5 separate regions of the Homo sapiens genome follow, and regions 2, 3, 4 and 5 are each linked to region 1. The links come from fine-mapping of genetic effects on gene expression. A gene starts in region 1. Each other region holds a variant in brackets. All regions are shown on one strand. Distances are from middle to middle.

Region 1 (5,133 bases):
ACAGTTTTACTTTAAGTATACAGCATTTTAAAAATACATACGCATATGTGTATATCTGTGTGCAGGCCTGGGACTAAGGGAAGGCAAGTGCCAAGGACATAAATGTAAAAAAGCTCCTACCTTCTGGCATGAAAATTTGTACCTGTGTACCTCATTTGTCTTACCTTGGTCCCAGCCCAGCCCTATACCTAGTGTGTGTGTGTGTGTGTGTGTGTGTGTGTGTGTGTGTGTGTGTGTGTGTTTTCCTTTTAAATTATTTCCTTAGGAAAAATTCCCATGATGGGAGATTACTGGTTCAGAGCATGTTAAGATTCCAATTACTAGAGTGTTTCTCAGGAGGATTCCATTGAAGGTTTTTTTCCCTTTTTCAAACAAAATTTTGATATGTATACTTATCAAAAGATGGGAGATCAAAAATCTTGAGATCAAAAATTTTGGTATGTGTACATTTTACAAAGATTACAGAGGCAATGGGGGATGTTAGGGGGCTATCACAATAGCATGTCCCAACTAGAGTGCTATTGTTGCTATAGAAATTCCACTGATACAACTTTTCATGTCTGCATGGCCCAGCCAAAATATTCTGGGTTTATTTATTTATTTTACAGACAGGGTCTTGCTATGTTGTCCAGGCTGGTCTCTAACTCCTGGGCTCAAGCAGTCATCCCACCTCAGCCTCCTGAGAAGCTGAGACTACAGGTATCACTCCAGCTTTAGACACAGTTATAACTTCATGCAATCAAGCTGTATACTCAATTATTATCAAACCAACAACAAAGCCTCTGATATTGAGTCCATGTCCCTAACAGACGACCCTTCTGTGTGTACCAACCTGGCCACTCAAGGTGTATCATTTTCACAAGAGATTAGCTCTTTGGATTTGGACCCAGGAGGTTCAATTGGCAGAGCAACCTCCAAGTCAAGAGGACTCTCATGGAGGAAGGAACTTGCTGTTTTACACAAAGCAAGTTCCCAGCTTTAGGCTCAAGTTCAAATTCTATTACTTGGGGACAAATGAATTTGCCCAATAGCAACAATTTTTACAAAAGTTACATGGAAAAATATCTGGGCTAGTCTGTTCTGTATAAATTTTTCCAGGAGGGAGCACTTTTAAAGAAAGCACCAAATGGAAAATCACCGGCATGGAGTTTAGAGAGACCTGGTGCTTGAGTCACTACCAGGCAGATGGAGTTCCCAATCTTGCATAATTAGGGGAAAGATCGGAGGGTGATGGAGCAGAAAGAGCAGTTGGGGTGAGGTAGAGTATCATGAAGAGAGGTTGTTGGAAAGAAACCAAAATTGTCTTCAAGGATCTTCAAGTGACTTTTCTTAGGCTATCTTGGAAAAATGTGTGTTTCTACCTGCCAATTAGGGTGATCAATTTACTATTTTGTACCTTCTAATTTGAAATACTGGAAGCTACAATATTAGAGTCAACTTTTTCTTCTGTGGTTTTCTGTCTGTTCACTTTTCTTCCTCTAGAGAGTTTTGATAAGTTACTGTACTGGAACTTACTGCTTTGATAGAGTCTCACTTTCCAAAGACTGATGAAATTTGTCTTACTGATTCTGAATGGACAGCCTTACTTTCCAAATTCTTCTGAGAGTTCTGGATCAAGCCCATCAAGGCTTTCTAACCTCAAGAACATCAAAGGATGCTGGCTTTTGGTGGAAGGCTTGCTGAACCACACCTAGTATGCACAGACACAGCTAACACCTAGAGTGGGGTGCAAAGAGAGATCTAGAAGGCTACAAAAAGTCTGGGCAAACCCATATTTTGTGAAGGTGCTTTGCAAAAGGATTGCAAGCCATTTTTCTGGCATGCACCTTTGTCTAAGAACAAAGTGCGGTAAACTATATGTGTAGTCAGTATGATTCACATAGATTAAGGACAAGGTATTCGTCAGATTCCCAAAGAGCATCAAACTGGGGTTGGACAACAAAGGCATTCTTCTGGGCTCTTAATGAAACCAAAACTTATTTCTAGTCTATGTATTTATGGGATGCCTGTTATTTTCGCTAAAGCATTCGCTTTCCCACCAGATACAGCAGCTGAGGAACTCCTTTCTGCCACGCGGGGCGCGGGCGAGCGTTGGGGGCGGAAAGAATCCGCTGCCACTAGGACCAGGCGGAAGAAGCATCCCCGCCGACCCTTGGGGAAGGCCGCCGCGGCACCCCCAGCGCAACCAATCAGAAGGCTCCTTCGCGCAGCGGCGCGCCAACCGCAGGCGCCCTTTCTGCCGACCTCACGGGCTATTTAAAGGTACGCGCCGCGGCCAAGGCCGCACCGTACTGGGCGGGGGTCTGGGGAGCGCAGCAGCCATGGCAAGCCGTCTCCTGCTCAACAACGGCGCCAAGATGCCCATCCTGGGGTTGGGTACCTGGAAGGTAGGTGCTCGTGGGGGCGCGGGCCCGGGGCTCGCCTCACACTCTCCGCGCGGCCTGTATTGGCGAGGGACCCCGAGTGACCCTGAGCAGCTCGCCCCGCGGACGCCCGGCGTGCTGGGAGCCACGCGCGGGCTTGCAGGGTCCCCAGCGGGCTGGGGTCGGCCTTGCAGAGACCGGGGGCCTTGGCTCCCCGGGTTGGCCCTGGGCGTCAGGGCAGCATCCTGCGAGTGGGGTTTGGGAGCAGCTCACGGGAGCCCCCGCCCTACCGCGGGCAACCCTTGATGGGCGGCCCACCAGTCCGCATTTTGGGTCCTAGCGGGCGCCCCAAGCGGCACAACGCGAGAGGGAGGCGGGGAAAGTGGGCTTCACAGACCGGTGGACCTCGGGCGCAGACAGGGACGTGGAGCCGTCGGCAAGGTGTGGGAGCGCAGACCCAGCCTCCTTTCCCTCGAGGCACCTGTAGCCCGGTTGCCTCACTTGTAAATAGTTGGTCTCAATCGTTTCGATTCTTGCCCTCCCTGAGGAATAAGCATCTCAAGCCGGTAGAGGGCAGAGAATTAGGTGGCGCGAGTTTGCCCGGACCCAGCTGTTAACAAGGCGCAGTGCGGAGCTCCTCGGCCAGGCGCCGCCTCGGGGTGCCCTGGGTCTGGAACTCGGGAGAAAAATCTGGGCACCCCGTAGCTAGTTGATAATTCAGGAGGCGCCAAGGTTAGCATTTTCCCTGTAAAACCTCAACACCACACAGCGTCCCCGAGAAGTGCCTAGCCGGATGAGAATGACAATAGGACATGAAACATCATAGGATATGAAAAATGATAATATGATATGAAAAACCAAAAATAATAGCCTGAGCCTGATTATCTGAAAATTGAGCAACAAAGGTGGTGGTATGGGAGCTGAGGCAAAACCTAGAATTTTTAACCTTCTAAGTATTGCATATTATATTCCACAGCCATAACCTGGGTTTCTCAGTTTCTGTTTTTGTTGTTTGCTTGTTTGTTTGTGACAGGGTCTCGTTGCCCAAGCTGGGGTGCAGTGGCACAATCATGGTTCATTGCAGCCTGGAACTCCTGGGCTCAAGTGATCCTCCTGCCTCAGCACTGCGGGTAGCTGGGACTACAGGCGCTCACCACCACACCTGGCTAATCTTTTTTCTTCCCCGCAGAGACAGTCTCCGCTTGTTGCTTAGGGTGATCTCCAATTCCTGGGCTCAAAGCGCTCCTCCCACCTCGCCTCCCAAAGCTACAGGTGTGAACCATCTGGCAGGCCCACGTCCCAGGTTTTTCTCTTAAAATTTGAATATGGGCCTGGGCGTTGGATATTTACACACAGACAAGGGAAGAAAACAACAGAAAGAACTGAGTGAACTGTGAGATGTTTGAAATAGGACAGAAGAGTTTACATGTACCCTAAAACCTGCTGTTGAAAATTAGTAAATATAAGGTAAGAAAAAGGTCATTTGCATCAGGGAGAGTGTTTCTTGGCCAGAATGATCAGGGTACGTGATTTGTTTCCTCCAAAAACTCCAGTGGTGTCTCTAAGGTTGTAATTGAATTACAACCATGACACCAAGCTAATTTCCATCTGTTGCATGTTATGCTCTTGGAATGGATGCAGAAGGATGCTTTCTTGGCAATAGCAAATACTTTCTAAGCATGATGCAACGCACAGATATATACATGTAACTGGAATAAAAATTACTTAACAGTACTTAACCTATGTAGGCTGCATTTCAATATTTTTTTCTATTCCATTTTTCCAAAAATTATTGTCATACCTCCAGAAGCTAGTTTTGTGACCCATCATTTGAAAATCACTACTCTAGGGTAAATAAGGAGTAAAAGTTTATTTTTTTTTTTTTGAGACAGGGGCTCAGTGTCACCCAGGCTGGAGTGCAGTGGCATGATCATGATTCACTGTAGCCTTAACCTCTTGGGCTCAAGTGGTCCTCATACCTCAGCCTCCCAAGTAGCTGGGACCACAGGTGTGTGCCACCACACTCGGGTAGTTTGTTTTTAATTTTTTGTAGAGACAGGTTTCCCTATGTTGTCCAGGCTGAGGAGTAAAAGTTTATGAAAGAGGGTTTCAGATTATTCACTTGAGCACTCAATGCCCCAAAAAGCTATGTATTTGTTTAAGATAACATCACATCATAACATCTGTACATTTAGGTTATGCATTCCAGTAGACAGAGTTCATTGAGAAATTGGATAATGTCTGCTTCATTCATTACTATTTCTAGCACTTCTCACAGTGCCTGGCAAATATAGGAGTAGGTATCCAAAAGTTATGTGTTGAATTCATATGAAGAAGTAAAACGACTTTAGAGATAGCTGTATGGTGAAAACGCCCACTTGTATTCCTGTGGATGAGGAGATCAGGTTGGTGTAGAATTGTACGGTGGGGGCAGCGGGGAATGGTGGGTCAAAGTAATGGTATAAGGATGGACTTGGAATCAACTTCCTTTTTTTTTTTAATGACTTAAAACCTTTCCCTGGGGCCGGGCGCGGTGGCTCACACCTGTAACCCCAGCACTTTGGGAGGCAGAGGCGGGCAGATCATGAGGTCAGAAGATAGAGACCGTCCTGGCTAACATGGTGAAACCCCGTCTCTACTAAAAATACAAAAAATTAGCCCGGCATCGTGGCACGCACCTGTAGTCCCAGCTACTTGGGAGGCTGAGGCAGGAAAATCGCTTGAACCCCAGATGTGGAGGTTGCAGTGAGCCGAGGTCCCGCCACTGCAC
Region 2 (5,000 bases), 780 kb after region 1:
GCCTCCAGAACATTAACATCATGGAGGGAGGAGGTAATTTATCACAATGAGTTATAAGAGGGAGAACTGAAAAGTATTATTAATAGAAATGCTTTGGGAGAAAGATTGTTTCAAAAGCATGATTTGGAACAAAGGTAGCGAAAGGGAAAAAAAGGCCCTATAAAATTCTGAAAATGTAATTTGCTAAGATTTTCAAAATGGCACATTCACTTTCAGCAAGATGCTTAATTCCCAAAACAACTTATGGGAAAGAAGCATCAGACTTAGATGAATAGCAACTGTAAACTTGTCCTGCTTTTCTATGGTTGGGAGCACTGAGGAAAACACACCAAGGCAAGGACCTAAATTATAAATATGTGATGGGCCTTAAAGATTTTAACAAAACAGAAGTTATGACATCGGTTTCAATGCATAAAGAATAAACACAAAAATAAAAAATAAAATAAAGTATTTAATTGAAAGAAGTATGAGATTAACCAGGCAGGACGAGGAGCCATAAAGACAGTGGAAGCTGGCCAGGTGTGGTGGCTCATGCCTGTAATTCCAGCACTTTGGGAGGTCAAGGCGGGGAGAATGCTTGAGCCCAGGAGTTTGAGACCAGCCTAGGCAACATGGCAAGACCCCAGCTCTACAAAAAGAAACAAAACAAAAAACACTACCCAGGTGTGGAGGCATGCGCCTGTGGTCCCAGCCACCTGGGAGCCTGAGGCAGGAGGATCACTTGAGCCCAGGAGGTTGAGGATACAGGGAGTTGTGTTCATACCACTGTACTCCAGCCTGGGCAACACAGCAAGAACCTGTCTCAACAAAGAAGAAAAAAAAAAAAAGAGGGTGGGAGCAATCAAGAGCTTGCTTGGTGACACAGTGTGGAAATTCCAAAGGGGAAAACAACAAAAGGAGAATGAAACCAACCAGGTATGTGACTAAATTTATAATTTCAAAATAAACATAACCTTGAGAAATTCGTTACTTTAAGAAAGGGGTCAGCATGAGGGAAACAGTTGGAAGTGAACTGCTTTAAATTATTTCTCTGTGACTGAACACATAGTGCAATAAGCTGTGAAGAGGGTAATTCCATACTTACATTGTGTTTTACAAGCAAAGTGGGAAATTGAGAATTATTGAACCATGCTCAAGTTCTTATCCAAATGAGTGTTTCAATTAGTTAACTAAGATTTCCTCATGTTTTAGAACTGTAGTATGTGGAATAAAGCAGTCAATCTATGGTGCTGCAAAATGGCCCAGCAAATTTGTTACATGTGGGATTAAATCTAACAAGAGAAGGCTATTTGTGTTTTAACACCCAATAATATAATTTAGATACTTTAGGTTATTCTTTTTTATATAGCAGCTTTACTGCGATATAATTTACATATCATAAAGTTCATACTTTTTAAAAGGTTATTATTGATTTCAACAAATGCAGGAGGCAATGAAGACATTAAAAATTGCAAGTTTTAGAGTACAATTATAATGATGCTTTTTAACAACAGTACACTGTTGAACACATTATAGGACATTCAATAAACATCCTAATTCACTATGTGATGTAAGGTCTCTCAAATATATCTACCAATAATAACCAATTAAAATATTTTAAAAATCCCTCAGTTACAACTAATACAAAAAAAGCCCTCAAAGTGATGCCTTCTAATGATATTTAGCAGAAAGAGAAGGATTTAAGATTGATTAGCAGGTTTGGGTGGCCTTGGGGTAGGAGAAAGTAGAGATAAGCTCTTACTTATCTTTGTAGCTATTAAGGTGCTTAAAACAATTCTTTGCACATAGCCAACATTTAAGAAATATTTGCGAAATTAACCTAGAGAAAGAAGGAAGCTGAAATGTATAAAGAAAGAAAAAGCCAAATTAAAAATCGGAGCAAAACAAACTTTAAGACACAAGCTTGTAATTGCAAACTGAAACTATGGAATTTTATTTTTATGATTGATAAACTTAGATGACAATCTTTTTTTTAAGTGTACACAATATATTTGACATTTGAGAAATTCTAGTATACATTCTCTGTGGTGAGATTAGCATGGCCTTGACAAAGATGGAAGTGTCTAAAGATGAAATCATGGAACAAATCAAGCACAGTAAATCACCTGCATACGGCACTTTGACCCATGGATTTGGTAGAAGGCTTATGGAATGACAAAGACATGGGATTTGTCATTTGTTCCTAGAAACAACAATACATCTTAACGGTAACAAAGATGTTAACAAGAATCTTCTGTTCTTTTTTCCTAAAACTCAAAACATTAGAGACAAGGGAGACACTAAGAATTACTAAACCACTAAGTTTTTTCTCATGTATATGAAACAGGGAGCTCTAATAAAACAGAATAATACCTTGTAAGGATAAGACAGATGTTATCAGCATAAATAAGAATGACTGTCAGAATAAAGGAGGCAAGAACTCTGAAGCCTTGGTGATTCATCACTTTGTTCTCAACACACACACACACACACACA[TACAC/C]ACACACACACACACACACACACACAGAGTTTACTACATACCCCCCAATAATTTATTTTTTGATTAAATGAATATAACTTTTTGAATAGCTTTCTATAATATACATAAGAAACTCCTACTGTAAATAAGAGATCTTAAGAACAGACTTTTAACTAATGAAAATGACCAGAAAAATAGGAAAATAAATAGCTCAAGGGTATACACAGTTAGATACCACATAGATATCCTATTAATTAATTTATTTACTTAATTAGAGAGAGAAAAGAATGCCTTGGGGAAAAAAGGATAGGGTGGTAGCTGATAAAACATCTTTTGGGAAAGTAATAAATCACAGAAACATAACACCCTCCCTTCCACTTTGTACATGCTAGATCCTCTCACAATTACTGTCTTCAGTCCTGGTTCCTACACATGAAAAGAGACAAGAGTCAACTAGAAAAGACTCACAGAAGGGCAGCCAAACTATTTAGAAGAAGAACTGGTGCTATTCAGTCTAGACTTGAGGCTAATGTGATTGAAATATTTAACGGGTGTCATAAAGTGATTAGAACTACTCTATGTTGCTCTTCAAAATAGGCATACTCGGTCCCATTCCAGCAGTTGCAGCTAAAACAAAAGAGGCATACTTGGTATGCTACTTGTTTAAAATAAAATTTTGCGCCCATTCTAAATGTAATGTACTTTGTCGGGTGAAGTAGAAGATAAAAGGCGATCAGACAACAACCTTATTCTCATAGAGTACAAGGAAGATATAGAGGATGAGTACCATCTAGTATCTAGAACAGTGCCTGGTACATAACGGGCACTCAATAAATATTTTTTGAATGAATGAATGAATGACTGCAATTCTCACGCCACGAATTTTGCGACCACCTGCTTGACTGAGTTGCACTAACAGATCTGACTGTCTCATGTTCCTCTTCAAAACTGTCAGCTCATGAAGCAGACGACATTGCCACATAGAGATGAGACATCCTTTATTCATAGTACAAGCATAAATAATACACAAGGCAGAAACTAACAATTTGCCTGAGAAGAGAACCAAATGGTGCACTGGGAATTTTGAGGTTGAATAAATTAGTATTAAAAATCATAAGCTGGCATATTTCATCTCAATTTAATAATTAAAGCTGTCCAACAAAGGAACAATTCCCAACCACCCAAATCAAGATTGTGCTTTTTGAAGCCTCTCTTTAGAGGGATACGGTATACAGTTCCTCACTCCTACGCCGTTATCTGGAGATGTAGTGAGGGGCTAATTCATCTTGGCAGAGCCATCAGATATGTAGTCTGCTCTAAATCAAATAATCTACAAAGCAGAATGATTTGTCCACATAGAAGTAGACAACTAGTAAATCAGACCTAAAAATCTTCCAGAATAAAGTCAACTCTTCCCTGATACAGAACTATGGCCTATACTGTTTCTATAATACACTGCCTGGTTTCAAATTTTAAGCATTCAAATTTGTGACCATTTATTTAAAGGAACAAATATCTACAAAAGCAAATCATATCAAATAAAAACAAAGATAACACAAAAATAACCCAAATAATCTTAGAATATAATCAGGCATACATTCATCTAGAAAGAGTTTTGAACACTCATATATTGACTCTTTCTGGACTTCAACCATAAAACAGAATGGCCCTACTGACCAAATGCCACACAGACGTCCTGGCTTGTAGATATTGCATTTATGGATAGCTGACAGCTGGGGTCGCCTTGAAAACTCCAAATGGAATTGACAGAGAAGAGATTTTGAAGCAATCCCCTGCCCCCTACCATCCCCCACCAAAAACACAACCCTCCAAAACTAAGGGTTTTCCATGGGTGAAGAAAATGGAAAACACTAACTTACTGTGTATTTAGCATAAGAAATTAAGCATTATATGCTTTTAAAGAACACTTTCTTATTTGAATTGCCAATTTAGACTTTGTATCACCTTCTAAGATGTTGCTAATGTGACTGAGTCTTTTCCCTCCCTGAGTCTCACTGAATTCAGATGCTAGTAGTGAGCACAATGTTAAGCACTGTAATTCTGTCTTTATTAGATTCAGGTATATAAATGACATCCCAGTGAGCATGGTGAACTTTGATGGTTACTTCTCCACTCAAGTTGTGTTCATCTTCCTGCTGAGAGGATGATCAGTGAGTTTTACCATAGGCCCAAGGGACCTATTATTTATTATAGTACATTTTATGGTGTGGAGTAAATAAATAGCATTAAAGTGCTAAATTCATTCACAAGAGATGAACTGTATTCATAAACTGGAGAAGTTCTTTAAATCAAGTCTATGCTGCTAATAGGCTCTTCATAAATATGCAGAAAACATTCATTGTAATATGACAGCAATAAAGGGAGGCAGCTGGAGTAACACAGAAACATTAGAAAGCAAACATTCTAGGCAAGGCACATTATTGGCATATAAGTGAATCATGAGGTTAAACACACCAAACTCATTTGGTAATCTATCATTTTTATATACCTGAATTGCAAAAATTCAAACCTTAAAACAATG
Region 3 (5,133 bases), 240 kb before region 1:
AAACAAGAGAAGCTGGTTTATAGCTGAAGGGAAAGGCTCTTTGATCCATCTTTCTCTCACCACTGCCTGCTCCTTCTGTTCCATTCCTTCCTGTAATAGGCACAGTCATCATTTTTATGTTTTTTAAATAAATAAAAGCACAATCATGTCAGGGCTGAGCAGCACCTTTGAGAGGATCTGATCCCCTTCCTTACTGTTCAGGCAAGAAAACTGAAGACAGAGGTTAAGGAACTTGCCAAACGTCACAGCCAGCAGAGGTAGTGGTGGGATTTGAACCCAGGCAGTCTGGCTCCAGCACGCAGGCTTGTAGCCAGAATGTTCCACAATGCATAGATGCAATAAGAAAGCTGATCTAATAGCACAAGACAGGCGAGCATAACAATGTCGGGAAGACCCATGCAGAGGGCAGGGGAAAGGTTATCCTTGTGCTATTCTTGTAATTTTGTTCAACAAAATTGTCAGCATGTGGGCAGAAAAAGAGGCAAAGCCACACACTGTCTTAACCATTTGTAAGCACAGACTATATCACAAAGGGGATTAAAGCTCACATGGTCGGATTCTGGCCTCTCTCACTCCCTTCTCCTAACTCACAAGAAGAGTCAGGCAGCCTGGGCGGGACCGGACCTCTCATGGGCTCCAGCAGCCTGGAGTTCTTCTTCCCATGCTGCCTCTTCCCAACTGCATGGGTATTGTTTCTTCTGTAAATCGGGGAGAGGATTGTTCAACGGGATTACTGTGGGTGCTTTCCAACTCTGAAGTTGCAGGTGTGTCCCACCCTTGAGTGGCAGGGGTAGCTTTAGTGTAGCTTTCTATGCAGCTGAGGGGGACAGTAAATGCATGATCACATGCATTTTTACAGACTGGTTTTGGGTCGATTCATACCTCAAACTCCATGATGGAGAGAACTTTCATAGCCCTTGTAGCTCCTCTCAGCATCTAGAGCAGGATTCTGCTGGTGACAGGTATTTAGCAAATATGGCAGAGTGGCTGTTCCCAGGCCCAGAGCCACTTGCGGGTCCCCCAGAATCTTGATAAGACTCCTCCTTCCATAAAGCTTCTTCCCCACTCCTCCTATCCAAGACTGGATTTAGGGGGCTCAGGATTCTACAAACAAAGCTGAGTGACCCTGTGACCTTGTCATCTCACAGTGACTAGACAAGAAGATAGCCTATCTATCTCCCTGACTCCTGGGAGGCTGCTCCTCCTGGTCTTTATAGAGGCCTGGCTGGAGACAAACTATTGGCCATTTTGCTTCTTGCTTGTTTTGCCTTGGGTTTTTCACAGTTTTCTTGATAAAACAAAAGGTGTTCAGCCTCTTAAAGTTTTTGCCCAGTTCTTACCCTTGACAACAGCACCTCATCACCAATAGTCAGTAAATTTCATTTCTCCCATATCCATATTTCCCTTGCTTCCAGGGTAGGGGAATGGGTTTTGGCCCTGGTTTCATACAGCTGCAGAATGATTTCCAGAATGACGTCCCATGATGGCCATGTGAGAGGAAACAGGCACGAACTGCCACCTGGGAGTGATTTCTGGTGAGACATTTCATCTTCCATGGTGGCTGGCTTAACAGTCAGGCTGGTGAAAGCCAAAAGTTCATCCTCCAGGAATGTTCTGGAGGTTATGCCGCCTGGAGGTAAAGGGTTATTCTAAGCCAGTCTCAGAACTTTGGACCTTTGATGTCTAATTCAATGGTTAGAACATGGGCTAAATGCTTTTGATCCCTAGATGGGGCCAGTGAGCTTGGTTTAATTCAGTGGCCTAAAGCCCACCACTGACTATGTTGGTGAATTTCAGTGTAGTTATTCAACAGGAAGACCAAAAGGAGAGGCTTCACCTCAACTCCTCTCAAGCTGGTGTGCTATCCCAAAGCAATTTGAAATGCCGACATTGATTTGGCAATGATGTATATGAAGGAAGAGTTATGAAGCTCAGTATTAAAGACTGACGTTTCTACTTCTTCCATGCTTTCGTTATGTTAATGTCGCCTCCACATTACCTTCAGATGGAAAGAAAGAACATCACATGAATGGTCAACTACAAAAATTAACTATTTTCAGTCCTGGATTAGGTAAAAAATAATGTATATGGCAAATCATGAAGTTAAGTATTTTCCAAAAATATTTTTTACTGCCTTAACATACTGGAAAAGCAAAAGAATAAAGATGTTCTATTCAAGAATGTAAGTTTATAAATAAGTGGGGGAAAGAAAGGAACATGAGGCCGGGTGCAGTGGCTCACGCCTGTAATCCCAGCACTTTGGGAGGC[C/T]GAGGCGGGCGGATCACCTGAGGTCGGGAGTTCGAGACCAACCTGACCAACATGGTGAAAACCCGTCTCTACTAAAAATACAAAAATTAGCCGGGCGCAGTGGTGGGCACCTGTAATCCCAGCTACTTGGGAGGCTGAGACATGAGAATAGCTTGAACCCAGGAGGCGGAGGGTGCAGTGAGCCGAGATCATGCCATTGCACTCTAGCCTGGGCAACAGAGCGAGACTCCATTTCAAAACAAAACAAAACAAAACAAAACAAAATGCAAAAAAAGAAAGGAACATGATCAGGGAACTGGGAGGACCTGGGAGAGTGTGAGTCCACATGGATGAGGATCCAAGCTCAGAGAGGCCATGTTCTTTCCTAAGGTCACACAGCTTAGATAAGGGTTAAAATAAGAGAACATTTAACCCATTTATACCCGAGATTGCAATTTTTGAATTTTTGCAATCAGACCTTGGTGATGACCCTAAGCAGTAGGATATAAATAACTCCCACGTGCTCAGCGTTCCAGTAATGGAACACTAGGCATAAATGGGTTTTAAACAAGTAAAAAGAAAAACTCATTTTTCTGATTCCTAGTATAGTGCTTGTTCCTCTACATAATGTTGCTGTCTAGATTTTTTTTTTTAGATTGTTCATCCATTTTGGAAGCCTAATTGGCAACATAATGGAATTTTCTGAAATCCACAGAGAGAAAAAAAGAGCCAACTACATTCAGTTTTTTTTTGTTGGCTTGTTTTGTTGGAATGTATAAACAATTCACCAACAGACATCATTTCATAGTCTGAAAGGAGTGGAGAATTAAAGAGATTTTGTGCTCAACCTCTCAGTAGAGGAAAGCCCTGTGACATCAATGCACAAGGCTATGGTTGAATTATTTTGGATTTGAGGTATGTGTGTGGGATTTGAGGCATGAAAAGAGGTAAGAGAGGAATTAAAAGGAATTGTTGCTTTCTGGAGAGCCCCGAGTTCAGATACAATGACAGTGAGCTGATCTACGTCTCTTCTTATAAGGAAAATACCATCACTCAGCTACATTTCTGAGAAAGAGAAGCTTTCTGTCTAAAAGAGGACCACAATGAGTTTGTTGAGCTAAATGACTCTTTTGAAGGAATGTTGTAACAAGGAATGGCTAAACGTGATTTGAAATCAGCTGGGTTATTCAGAAAACTTGCCTATTTACATGAGCGCATCCAGCCATTCACGGTTGCCCACGTAGTGCAAATCCTTTTGCTTCTCCATCACTGGAACGCCTTTCCTTGGGGCGAGCCTCTTCTCAGCCTTCAGGAGCCAGCTCAAATTGCACCTAATAAAGTGTAGCCTTCTCATACTGGCCCAAGGCCAAACTCCTTTGTCAGCTTTGCATCTATACCTCAATATGGAATTTACCAAAATGATTCCTTTCTGCCTTTCCTTCTCCATTTGATCATCAACTCCTCAAGATTAAGGACAGGGTCATATTTATCTTTACACCCTAGTGCTTAATACAGTGCCTGTACATGTGATGGTTGATTTTATGTGTCAGTTTGGGGGCACAACAAACGTCATGCACTGTTGTTTGGTCAAACATCAGCCTAGATGTTGCAGAGAAGGTATTTTAAAAGATATAATTGATATTTAAGTGAGTTGACTTTGAGTAGATTACCATACATCATGTGGGTGACGCTCATCCAATCAGCTGGAGGCCTTAAGAGAAAAGACTGAGGCCCTACAAAGGGGAAGGAATTCTGCCTCCAGACTCAAGTCTGCAATGTCACCTCTTGCCAGAACTTCCAGCCTGCTGGTCTGGGCCTGCAAATTTCAGACTTGCAGTTCCCACACTTTCTTTTAAAATGAATCAATCTCTGTCTCTCTATCTTTCTGTCTCTCTCCATATATATGTATATGTCCAAATATATATGTGTATATATTGAATCAATATCTTGTTGATTCTGTTTCTCTGGAAAACATGGAGTAATACAGCACATGTTTAGTAAGAGTTTAGTGAACCACCAACTTAATAGCAAGGAAAAGGAAGACGGCAAGTAGGGCTGAAGGCTGGACGGGAGAGGGAAAATGCTGGAAAGTATATGAGTAGATAGAGATTGAATAACCAGGGAAGAAACTGCATGCCACTCTTTTTAAGATAATGATGTCTACCTTTATTATGCACCTGGGTACCATATGTGCATAGAAATATTTTAATGCAATTGGATTTCCTTGTATTTTAGAGACTCTCATGTAAATATCAAACTGTAAGGTAGAATGAGATTAAGATATTTAAAAAGGGATTTAGGCCAACATAAAGCACATATAATAAAGGGTATTTATGTTTTATGGAGGATTTTCTGGAATCTTTAGAATCTTTGGGGACTGGATTAAGTCCCTGGGATTCCTAAACCCTTAGGAGTCCTCCAACTATTTTCAGTATTTTAAAAGTCACATTGAAGTCCTACCCCTGCCTGCTAAGCCTGCACAGTCTCGTTAAAATGTCAAATTTTGTTTGCTTTGGGCTAGAATTCTGTTAACCAAGTTTGATGGGGTTGGTTATCTTTTGCTGCCCAATATCTCTAATTGGCAATTGCACATATCTTGGAATAACTTTTTAAAAATGGAAGCATGGATAAACTAATTTTAAAATGCAGGTTGTTCGATAGCAAAGTCTTTTAAAACAAAGGAGGCACAAAAGGTGGAGAAAAAGAGGTAATGAAAGGAGTTTCTAGTGATGGGCAGGTGAGGAGCCTCATAATGGATAATTACTGAGCTCCTGAAAGGCCCAAGAGTTGAGTAAAGTCAGTGCAGTATCTGGTTAGCCACAAAGTTCACGGTGGTCCAAAGTTAAATGTCCTGAGTTTGCACATGCAGCCAAACTCATGCACAGA
Region 4 (5,133 bases), 75 kb before region 1:
CTGTGTTAGTCAGGAAGAGGCTGCAGCATACGGAGAAGCCTCACTTGTGGGTCCTGAGTCCCTCTCTCCCACACTAAGCATGCTTTGGTTTGCAGGAAGGTCATGCATTCAGATTACACCCTGATAGGGGCACCCGGCCATGGAGTTGTGTGGGACTGAAGCCTGACCCACTGTTTGCATATCCAGCCATGCTTCCTGGTACAGAAACTGCATGGACACGCAAGGAAGGGAATCTTTGTATAATTTTTAGCCTATATTGGGCATTTTCCAAACTTGCCCAAAGATACCATACATGTTAGCAGCAGCCTCCAGTGCAATATGTATTTAGTAGCCATCTATTACATGTTCCAGATCCTGCCCAGAAGTTGTCAGGATGTAAATGTATACAATGTGCTCCCTTTTTCTGGGATTCTTATAGTCCAATTAAAGTGCTAGAGTTCCCTTCTATGGAGCCATCAATCATGACACTGAGGCTGCCTCAGATAACATCACAGCGGCATAGACAGAGTCAGAAAGGGCAGAGAAAGAAGAGATACATACAGCCCGCAGTTGTCAGGGGAGTCCTTCAGGTAGAGTATAAGCTGGGCCTCAAAAGAAAAAAAAAAAAAAAAAAAAAAAGACAGAAAAGAGGGAAAAAACATGAGCATATGACACAGGAAGGCAGGAGCAAAGCTCAGAGGCAGGGATAAGCACGACATGTTCAGGGAACACTTTATCCAGCCCTTCTCAACTTTGGCTGCAATTTGGAATCACCAGGGAGCTTTAAAAAATACTGGCTGGATGCAGTGGCTCATGACTGTAATCTCAGCACTTTGGGAGGTGACAGGAGGATTGGAACAGGGGTTTTGGGCCTAGGTTTGAGTAACCTAGGGTAAGTTTTTTAACTCTTGTAGGCCTTAGCTTTCTCTTCTTAAAAAAAGTCTTATAATACCTACTAATAATATATATGTTTCTGATATATATTACCAGAGGCTGAGACAGGAGGATTGCTTGAGGCCAGGTGTTGGAGACCATCCTGGGCAACATAGCAAGACCCTGTCTCTACAAAAAGAAATTTTTTTAATTAGCTGGATGTGGCGGCATGTGCCTTTGATTCCAGCTACTTGGGAGGATTGCTTCAGCCCAGGAGTCCGAGGCTGCACTAAACTATGATGATGCCATTGTACTCCAGCCTGGGCAACAGAGAGAGACTCTCTCTAAATTAAAAAAAAAAATTACCAGTGCCTGGATTTCACCCCCCAGAGTTTCTTACAGATTTTCTCTGAGTTGTAGCCTAGACGTTGGGATTTTTAAACTCCTCAGGTGATTCTAATGCATAGCCACGTTGAGAACCACTAGGATATATGATGTTATCCAAATTGGGCAGTAGAATTTAGAAGCTGTGAAATCATTAGGTTTCCCAAAATTTCAGATGGGGCAATTAGATAATTTAAAAGTTTTTGTGCACATAGGTCAGGTTAGTTTTCCTGTATTAGAACTTGACTTCTTTATACATTTTTCCTCCTCTCTGCTTCAATGTGGTCAGTGAGGTTTCTACTGAACTGGTTGTGGGTCTACATAAACATCCAACGCTTACATATTCAAGCCTGCTCATTTCAAATCAGAGCCTCTGATCTTGATCACTGCTATCTTTTCATGCCTTTCAAATGTTTTATTTAGCAGTCGTTCTTGTATTCATTCAAAAAACAGCACTGCGAGAAGCAGGCTACATTGACATACTTGCCATACTTCATGGCATCATAAGAGTTAAGATAAAAAAATCTTATCATATGTAATGCAAATAGCCAGGTGTGGTGGCTCACACCTGTAATCTGAGCACTTTGGGAGGCCAAGACAGGTGGATCCCTTGAGGTCAGGACTTCGAGACCAGACTGGCCAACATGGTGAAACCCCATCTCTACTAAAAATACAAAAATTAGCCAGGCGTGGTGGCATGCACCTCTAGTCCCAGCGACTCAGGAGGCTGAGGCAGGAGAATGGCTTTTACTTGGTAGAGGGACGTTGCAGTGAGCCAAGATTGTGCCACTGCACTCCAGCCTGGGTGACAGAGTGAGAGTGTCTAAGACAATAAAAACAACAAAAAGCTGTGCTTGTGGATTAATGCTTTTGAACAAACAATACACAGAAAAAGCTACATTTCATTGAATCATGTCAATTATAAGCATTTCAGAAAGTTGAAACATAATATATTTTTGCTTGTAAAACACAATACAAACTCGCAACTACATGCACACCTACACAGACAGCTACCAAAATAACACGATTAACTCTTGGAGTCATAAGCCACTGTTCATTTATAACTTATTCCTCCACTTCATTCTCTACTAGCATTTGCAAAAGGGTATAAATAATAAAAAATGACCAGAGAAAATGTTCATCCCTTCATTCATTTTGAATGTGAATGACGTGAAACAGGTCATGGTTA[G/C]ATCTGAGAAGCAGAGCACTCAGGCTCCCTGATTTCTGGATGTGTCTTCACTGCCTGCCAAGCACCATGCTGATGGCTTTGGTGGTTGGACTTGTGATTCAGATGAGTCTGGGTCTAATCCCAGCTCTGCCACACACATTGTGACAAGACCTGGGCAAGTCATCAAACAATCTAGGTTTCAAATGTCATTATTTATAAATGGGGATGTTAACCCTGTCTCCTAGGGTTAAATGGGCTTTATGACTAATGTTCCTGGCATGTAAACCATCTTAATCTTTATCACACACTGGAAGATATATATTGGTAGTATGTATTATACAACTTCTTTTTAAGAAGAGAAAACTGAGCCCTACATGAGTTACAAAACTGACCCTAGGTTACTCAGCTGCTATGAGCACACCCAGGCCCAAACCTCCTGTTCCAAATGCCTCGCCCTGGTTTGAGAACAGCATGTGTATTCCCCAAAGTGGGGTACATTGTATTTCCAGTCTTATTTGAAGACTATTAGCCTTGAAATATAAATAGTATCAGATGTACCCAAAAGCCAAAGGTGATGAGGAAGATATTAGAAGAGCTAGAAAATCACAATGATGAAATTAGAAAGCATCAGGCACATGGCCTCATTCATATCCATGCGAATCTCATGGATAACTGAAGATTTCTCTCCCAGCACACTTAGAGGAAGCTGGGAACCTACCTCCCAGGCATCCAAGAACGTTGCTTTTCCACCGATGGCATTACCTTTATCATCTTTGGGGAAAAGGTCATCCCCAGACTGTGAACACAGAATGAAAAGTTTACTGGAATCTGCATCAGGACACTTGGTTCTGTTCAACAAGGTTTCAGGATCCTGACTCTTGCTAAATACCACATCTGCATACCACTTTTTCAAGTTCTGGAGTACATACTTTAGGAATGTGAGTTTAATTAAAATCTCTGTATCTACTGTAGCATACTAATATTTTAGAAACGACTGGCTTGACTTTAAGATTTGCTGCTAGTACATTCCAGAAGTTCATTATCACCATGGACATTAACCTCATACACCTAGATCCCATATACAACCAAGGGCAAACTTTCATTTCAATATTACTGGATAAGGATTAGATATCCAAGCTGTGGTTTTCTGGAGAAGATATTGGCCAACTTCTATCCTTGCAGCCTCTAGAAGAGGCGTGGAATTAGGGGTGGCAGGCCATCATCACTCCAGTTGGTCAGGAGGGGAGAGAGCTGGAAATTTGTCTCTCCCACCCCTCAGGAGCAGGTAAGAGCAGAGCCCCAGGCAATGGGTGCCTGGATCACTACTGGCTTCCTTCCAGCATCACCATACTTGGGCTTTTCTCCAAGATGCCACTCCCAGGTGTACTTTGCTTAATAAGATAATTATGCCCTGGAATATAGTTATGCAAGAGTAACCCAAGAGATTTCCTGGGAGGGCAACCCTGGGGCGTGGAATCAAGACAAAGGTGATATGGCAGTTGCAACTTGTCTGGGCTGCCAGAAATCATGTCTTCTCTCAGACATAACTGCAAGAAAACCCAGGCATGTGGCCACCTCAGCAGCACACATGGCCTCAACCTCCCTTCCAGGCCAGTGTGTTTCTTCTCCAAGGTCTCTTCCTGACCACCTGCCATTCCCAATTATGAAATGCAAGGCCTCCTGCCCCAGTCCACACCACCCCACAGCCCTGGTGCAGCTACTATTTTCTGGCACCTGCTCAGAAACTAGAGGCTGAGAAAGAGAGTGTCTTAAACCTTGAATCCCTGTGGCCAGTGAATAAGATAGACGTCCAGATAGCTCAGCTTCAGGTCCTTGAGGGTCTTCTCAAAGGCTTTCCTCACAAGGGGTCTCTCAAAGAAAGTGGGCCACAACTGCAAAGAGTGTAGCAATGAGCTATTAATACTGGGAAAAGGAAGGGCCACATTGTACTCATTGTCCCTGCTTTTTGATTTGCATCCTCATCTAACCCACCACAAGCCATTTGTAACAAAGCTGATTAAGATCCACGACACAGTGTGGAACATCACCAGGGCTCAGCACCTCAATGACATGTCTTAAGTGTTAAAAGCAATTGACTTTTTCAACTGTCCTAGTACTCTATACGTGTCTCAGATCATTGAAGTAAATGTGGCCACAGATTTGAAATTTGTTTACCTGTCTCAGTCTCTTCCTCAGCTGTAGGCTCTCTGAGAGCAGGAATTGTGTGTAGCTTTTAAATGTCAAGCATTCTTAGGCCTTTGGGAGCAGATGGTCCTTTATCTGACCTATCTGATAGGTCCCTTATCAAGCCTATAAGGCCCCAAGTGATAATTTTACAAAGGCTTTATCCAGACTTGGCTGCTACACAGTGAGGTCTATTTGTCCTACCAGATGTATGCATTTTCCAAGTACCTAGAACTAGTGTTATTTTTTTTCAGCAAGTTATGTATAATATAGATCCAGTGATTCTCAGCCCTCTCACACCCAACATCTTCTTCTTTTTTATAACATTGTATCCCTCACCTTTTACTAGAATGAATAAAGAAATTCATATGTGACAATAGAAAAATGCCCCTACCATTTTCTAAAATTCCCCCTGGCTGAGAGTCTCAGGGGCACAGTCACTGAGATCACAGTGCTGAAAGGGAGGCTTCAGATCAAGACCCGCCTGCACCCTTGGCCTCTGATTGCCTCTGGGCAGATGGTAGATCCCTCTGATGGGGAACAGG
Region 5 (5,133 bases), 67 kb before region 1:
TTCCAAGTGCCCAGGCCCACAATGGGCATCTTGGCTTTGGTACTGAGCTCCACAAACGTGGCCATGGTTGGTGCAGAAATGATTCTGAGTGAGCAGGTAGAAGTCTCACGTCCTGCTCTCTGTTGCTGTTTTTGAGACAGTCTTGCACTGTTGCCAAGGCTAGAGTGCAGTGGTGCGATCTCAGCTCACTACAACCTCTGTCTCCTGGGTTCAAGCAATTCTCCTGCCTCAGCCTCCCGAGTAGCTGGGATTACAGGCGCCCACCGTGACTCCCAGCTAATTTTTATATTGTTAGTAGAGACAGGCTGGTCTCAAACTCCTGAGCTCAGGTGATCCGCCCACCTCGGCCTTCCAAAGTGCTGGGATTACAGGTGTGAGCTACTGTGCCCGGCCACAGGCTGCTTAAGAAGGCTGCTGCTATCTACAGTGGGAGGAGTTGGAGCCTGGCCACAGTAGCTTCCCTGCCATAACCAAACAGGAAATCCATTCCAGGCTTTTGTGAGATTGAGGATTCTGTGAATGAATTATTAAACATGGCAACCTTGTGCAAAGTTCTCTCTTAGGTGACAGTATCATTGGAGTTTCTGCTTGTTCAGGATGAGTCAACAAATTCAACACAGCCAAAAGTTGGAAGGTAGGGAGGGAGACAGCAAGGAAGAAAAGAAGAGTTGGAGGAGGGAGGGAAAGAAGTCTGGCCAACATAGTGAAACCCTGCCTCTACTAAAAATACAAAAATTAGCCGGGCGTGGGGGCACGTATCTGCAATCCCAGCTACTTGGGAGGCTGAGAAAGGAGAATCACTTGAACCTGGGAGGCGGAGGTTGCAATGAGCCTAGATCATGCCACTGCACTCCAGCCTGGGCGACAGACAGTGAGACCCTGTCTCAAAAAAAAGAAAGAAAGAAGGGAAGGCAGGAAGGAAGAAAGGAAAGAAGGAAGGAAGGAAGGAAGGAAGGAAGGAGGGAGGGAGGGAGGGAGGGAGGAAGGAAAGAAAGAAGGAAGGAGAGAAAGAAAGCAAAGCAAAGAAGGAAGAAAAAACAAGGGCTTGCTTTCCCTGTGATGGTTTCCTCTGTGAAATAGAGTCTAGGGAGGAGAGGTGAGAAGCAGCGTTTCAATTTTAAAAGTTGCAATTGCAGGTTCAGTGCAGAGATGGTCAAATCCCGACCTGATTGGAGTCAGCTGTAACTAGTTGGTAGTCAGCAATCTAGGGAACATGATATAGGCCTGTGCCATGCTGTGACACGCCATGACAGGCCAGGGCCACGTCACAGCATCTGTTTCAGCCTGCCGGTAGTGGGTTTTTCTGTCTTTTACATGTTCTTGTTGATGAGTTGGCTTTGGTTGAATCTTGAAATGGAATTGAATCTCTAGGCTGTGGCTTATGACAGCTCATAGAAGGCAATTGGCATGATATTTTGCAACTATGAGTGAAAAATCTTATACTTCATTGATGTTTGTTAAATTATCTACTTCAACATTAATAATAATGCATGGGCCGGGCATGGTGTCTCACACCTGTAATCCCAGCACTTTGGGAGGCCGAGGCAGGTAGATCACTTGAGCTTAGGGGTTTGAGACCAGCCTGGCCAACATGGTGAAACCCTGTCTCTGCTAAAAATCCAAAAATTAGCGAGGCATGATGGCACGTACCTATAGTCCCCGCTGCTTGGGAGGCCTGAGAATCCCTTGAACCTGGGAGGTGGAGAATGCAGTGAGCCAAGATGGTGCCACTGCACTATAGCCTGGGCGACAGAGACAGACTCTGTCCCAAAAATAAATAATTAAATACATGCATTCCTCATAATCTGGTGGCCACAAAGTCTCCTGGATATGCACTTGCGGCACTTTATTTTCCCAGTGTATACTGGATGACATGCAGTGCTAGTATTGTTGAAATAGTAAATCCTTAGTGACTGTCAACCTAAATAACAGAGAGAGGGTCCCTACAAGAAAAATATTTCTCTGGGAATAGAGCACTGCAATGGGAATATGCATGCCACAGTAAACTATGTGTATATTTGGGGAAATAAAGGAAGACAAAACTTTTCAAGGAAAAAATGAGGATTATCTAATTGCTTTGAAATAATTAGCCTTGGCTCCAAAGATCAATCATGAAAGTGGTGTTAGTCTGAGGTTGGACACGCAGTTGTTCAGAGGTCCTTGCAGAGTATGTTTTGTGTTCAGTTGCAATGGCCTTTGCTCAAGGTTGTGGTTTTCACCGTCTTTCATGGTACTTTTGGTTTTCAGGTGTACAACCATTAGAACCCTCTTTTCATGGTCTTCCCAGCTGTATTTGTCAGAGTCTTCTGTTTGTTTTTTAACATTAGTGACTCCATTTTGATTCTGACCATTTTCATGTGATGCACAGAATAAAGAAATGTGTATTGTTCATAATAACATTCCTTCCAGAACCACTTAGCTATGAATCAGTGAGAAGGGATATCTTTTTTAGATAATTGAGATTAAGAAGGTATATTGATTAGCTGTTTTCGTGTAACAAACAAACTGGTTATTACAGCAACCATTTATTTGCTTGTGATTTTGTGGGTTGGCAATTTGGGCAGGAATCAGCTGATAAGCCGGTCTCAGAACCA[C/T]GTGGTGTCTGTCAGCTGGGTTTTCTCACCTCTGTGGGCTTCACTGGGGTGGACTGGGATGTCAGGGAAGGCAGGGACCCTTTTTATGTGTTTTTCATTTTCCATGAGGCTAACTTGGGCTTGTTCATAGGTAGCAGCATTGTAGGAGGCCTACCCTTGGAATGTGTGCAGTGTCACTTCTGTCACCTTCTATTGATCAAAGCAAGTCTCAAGGCCAGGACGGGGCCAAGGAGTAGGGAAATAGATTTCACCTCTTGAGGGGATTTGTTACACAGAATTATGGCTATTCTTAATCAACCCCAGAAGTTTTCATAAGAGTTTTGATTAGCTACTTTCTAGCTTCATGAATTTACCAATCTATTCCTGGTTTTGTACCCTTAAGAAACTCTCATTTTTTAAATCTGATGAATATATGTGCATAAGAAGTTTTACTTTGTTAAAATTAAGTACATACAAAATTGAGACAAAATTATTTTTAGAAGGAAAATGAACGAGTAGTGCCGCTTTTCATTCTCATCCATTTCTCTAAGAAACAGAGGAAGCAGCAACTAATATATCTGAAACAGGGAGGAAAAAGAACAATTCCAAGAATTGTGGGAGTGCAGAGAAGTTTCTGGGCAGAACAGTGTGAGCCAAGGGGTGGAAGCGACTAAGATACATTGGAAGAACGGGAGGAAGCCAGTGTGGGGACGCTCAGAGAGTAGACTTACAGGGTGCCCAGCAGAGTTAAAGCTAGACTGATATGCAGGTACCAGAGGGTCAGGAGCTGCAAAGCTGTGATCATGGAGTTGGATTTACCATGAAGGTAACAAAACTTGACCTTCAGTTGCCTTCACTTGCATGAGCACCATCTTAGGCTTTGTACCTAACATTGAATTCTTAATTTTGTATTCTTTAAAAGAAAACCCCGATCGTACAACTTCAGGATCACAAAATCTGAATCCCCTGTGCATGTTAACATTTTTTATTTTATTTGAGAGCACCAAAGTTTTGTTTTTTAATTTTTCAAAAATCTTTTTATTATGAAATATTTTGAAAATATGCAAAACTACACGTCCCCACCTTCTCTCCTTGTGCTGTATTTGTTAGCTGGGTGTGGTGGCTCACACCACCTGTAATCCCAGCTCTTTGGGAGGCTGAGGCAGGAGGACTACTTGAGGCCAGAAGCAACATAGCGAGACCCTGTCTCTATGAAAAATACAAGAAACAATTAGCTGGGCATGGTGACACATGCCCGTAGTCTCAGCCACTCAGGAGGCTGAGGCCAGATGGTTGCTTGAGCCCGGGAGTCTGGATGACATAGTAAGACACTGTCTCAAAAAAAAAAAAAAAAGAAAAGAAAGGAAAAAAAAAGCCAAAAAACAAAACAAAACAAACAAACAAAAAATCACTTTCTCTCTATAGTTTCCCGCCCTCTGGATTCTGCTGATTATTGCATTCCCAGAAATGTATTTATCATGTCACTCTATCCCCCAAATATCTTGGCAACACTAATAAGACCTAGAGGCTTGATAAAATCCAGATCCAATTCTTGTTTTGTTTTGTTTTTTGGCTACTTCCTATACATTGTATTCTTCTATTCCGGTGGAATGACTGGCTGCCTCTTTATTTGTATTTATTTATTTGTATTATTTACAGTAGTCATTGATGATCATTACTTAAATCCATTATTTCATAACATTACAAAACAGTGAAATACTAATTATACCATTCTTTCTTCATGTATTAGCTGGCATACTTCTTTAAGGAGAAATTTCTCCTAATCAATTATTTGGCTACCCTGAGGTATAGTTTGAATAGGAACACTGAATAATGATTGATTCATTCTTTTATTTTAGTTTTTAAAAGGAGGTTTCCAAGCACCCTCCAAGGTGACAGATTAGTTGTCATTTAGTGTTCTTTGAATTCATGAATTTAAATATATTCAATGTTATAATCTATTGCTATTCTTATTGATGCCCAAATTATCCTCTTTGCCACTGAGAGCACTTCAAATTGGCTTTTGCATTCTTTTCATGTAATCTTTATAGCCTTTGGTAACTTCATTGCTTTCCTGTTCCAGACCTACATTTATCCAAGGAGATTTCCTTTTAGTGGAAATTGATATTTAGAAACCACAATTAGGGAACTAGAATCATTCTTTGCAATTGAATTGAATCTTGCTTCCAGGCCTTTTCAGTAGAAAGAGGTAGGAAATACCTTTTAAAAAACCTACCATGTATTTTTAGTAATACAAGAAACAATTAGCTGGGCAAGGTGGTGCATGCCTGTAATCCCAGCTACTCAGGAGGCTGAGGCAGGAGAATCACTTGAACCTGGGAGGCGGAGGTTGCAGTGAGCGGAGATTGCACCATTGCACTCGTGCCTGGGCAATAAGAGTGAAACTCCATCTCAAAAAAAAAACAAAAACCAAAACAAAACAAAAAAAAACACGACTTCAAATGGACATTTCTGATTCAAGTTAAGAACTTCAAGGCTTAATCTCACCTGTCTTATGTTTCTTCATTCTCTCACACTGAATATCTCACTTCCCAAAGAT

Which allele goes with the higher level. Alleles are on the strand shown, and positions count from the first base shown. SD is a standard deviation of normalised expression in the study named. Not every link is listed here.
As copies of TACAC replace C in region 2, the expression in prefrontal cortex of the gene that starts at base 2,284 in region 1 goes down (moderate effect, 0.70 SD a copy in CommonMind).

The links. PIP is the estimated chance that this variant, and not a neighbour inherited with it, causes the effect.
Region 2: its variant is fine-mapped to the expression of AKR1B1 in prefrontal cortex (CommonMind, PIP 0.95).
Region 3: its variant is fine-mapped to the expression of AKR1B1 in whole blood (INTERVAL, PIP above 0.99).
Region 4: its variant is fine-mapped to the expression of AKR1B1 in blood mononuclear cells (TOPMed, PIP above 0.99).
Region 5: its variant is fine-mapped to the expression of AKR1B1 in blood mononuclear cells (TOPMed, PIP above 0.99).

What each region holds. Positions count from the first base shown.
Region 1 is chr7:134,456,251-134,461,383 of GRCh38, reverse strand. AKR1B1 (aldo-keto reductase family 1 member B) reads left to right here and starts at 2,284. Exons shown (of 10, transcript NM_001628.4): 1 at 2,284-2,387. The coding sequence starts at 2,322. RefSeq lists a silencer at 2,485-2,674.
Region 2 is chr7:133,674,433-133,679,432 of GRCh38, reverse strand. All of the region lies in intron 10 of EXOC4 (exocyst complex component 4), which reads right to left. Among named protein-coding and RNA genes, the nearest start is that of MIR6133, 390 kb to the right of the region's middle. The variant TACAC/C (reference allele first, on the strand shown) is at 2,476.
Region 3 is chr7:134,698,055-134,703,187 of GRCh38, reverse strand. The region is part of intron 1 of LOC124901750 (a long non-coding RNA gene); the gene reads left to right. Among named protein-coding and RNA genes, the nearest start is that of BPGM, 54 kb to the right of the region's middle. RefSeq lists a silencer at 1-291. The variant C/T (reference allele first, on the strand shown) is at 2,269.
Region 4 is chr7:134,531,071-134,536,203 of GRCh38, reverse strand. It overlaps AKR1B10 (aldo-keto reductase family 1 member B10), which reads right to left. Exons shown (of 10, transcript NM_020299.5): 3 at 4,180-4,296; 4 at 3,123-3,200. Among named protein-coding and RNA genes, the nearest start is that of AKR1B10, 6.1 kb to the right of the region's middle. The variant G/C (reference allele first, on the strand shown) is at 2,426.
Region 5 is chr7:134,522,844-134,527,976 of GRCh38, reverse strand. AKR1B10 (aldo-keto reductase family 1 member B10) reads right to left here and starts at 410. Exons shown (of 10, transcript NM_020299.5): 1 at 1-410. The coding sequence starts at 65. The variant C/T (reference allele first, on the strand shown) is at 2,595.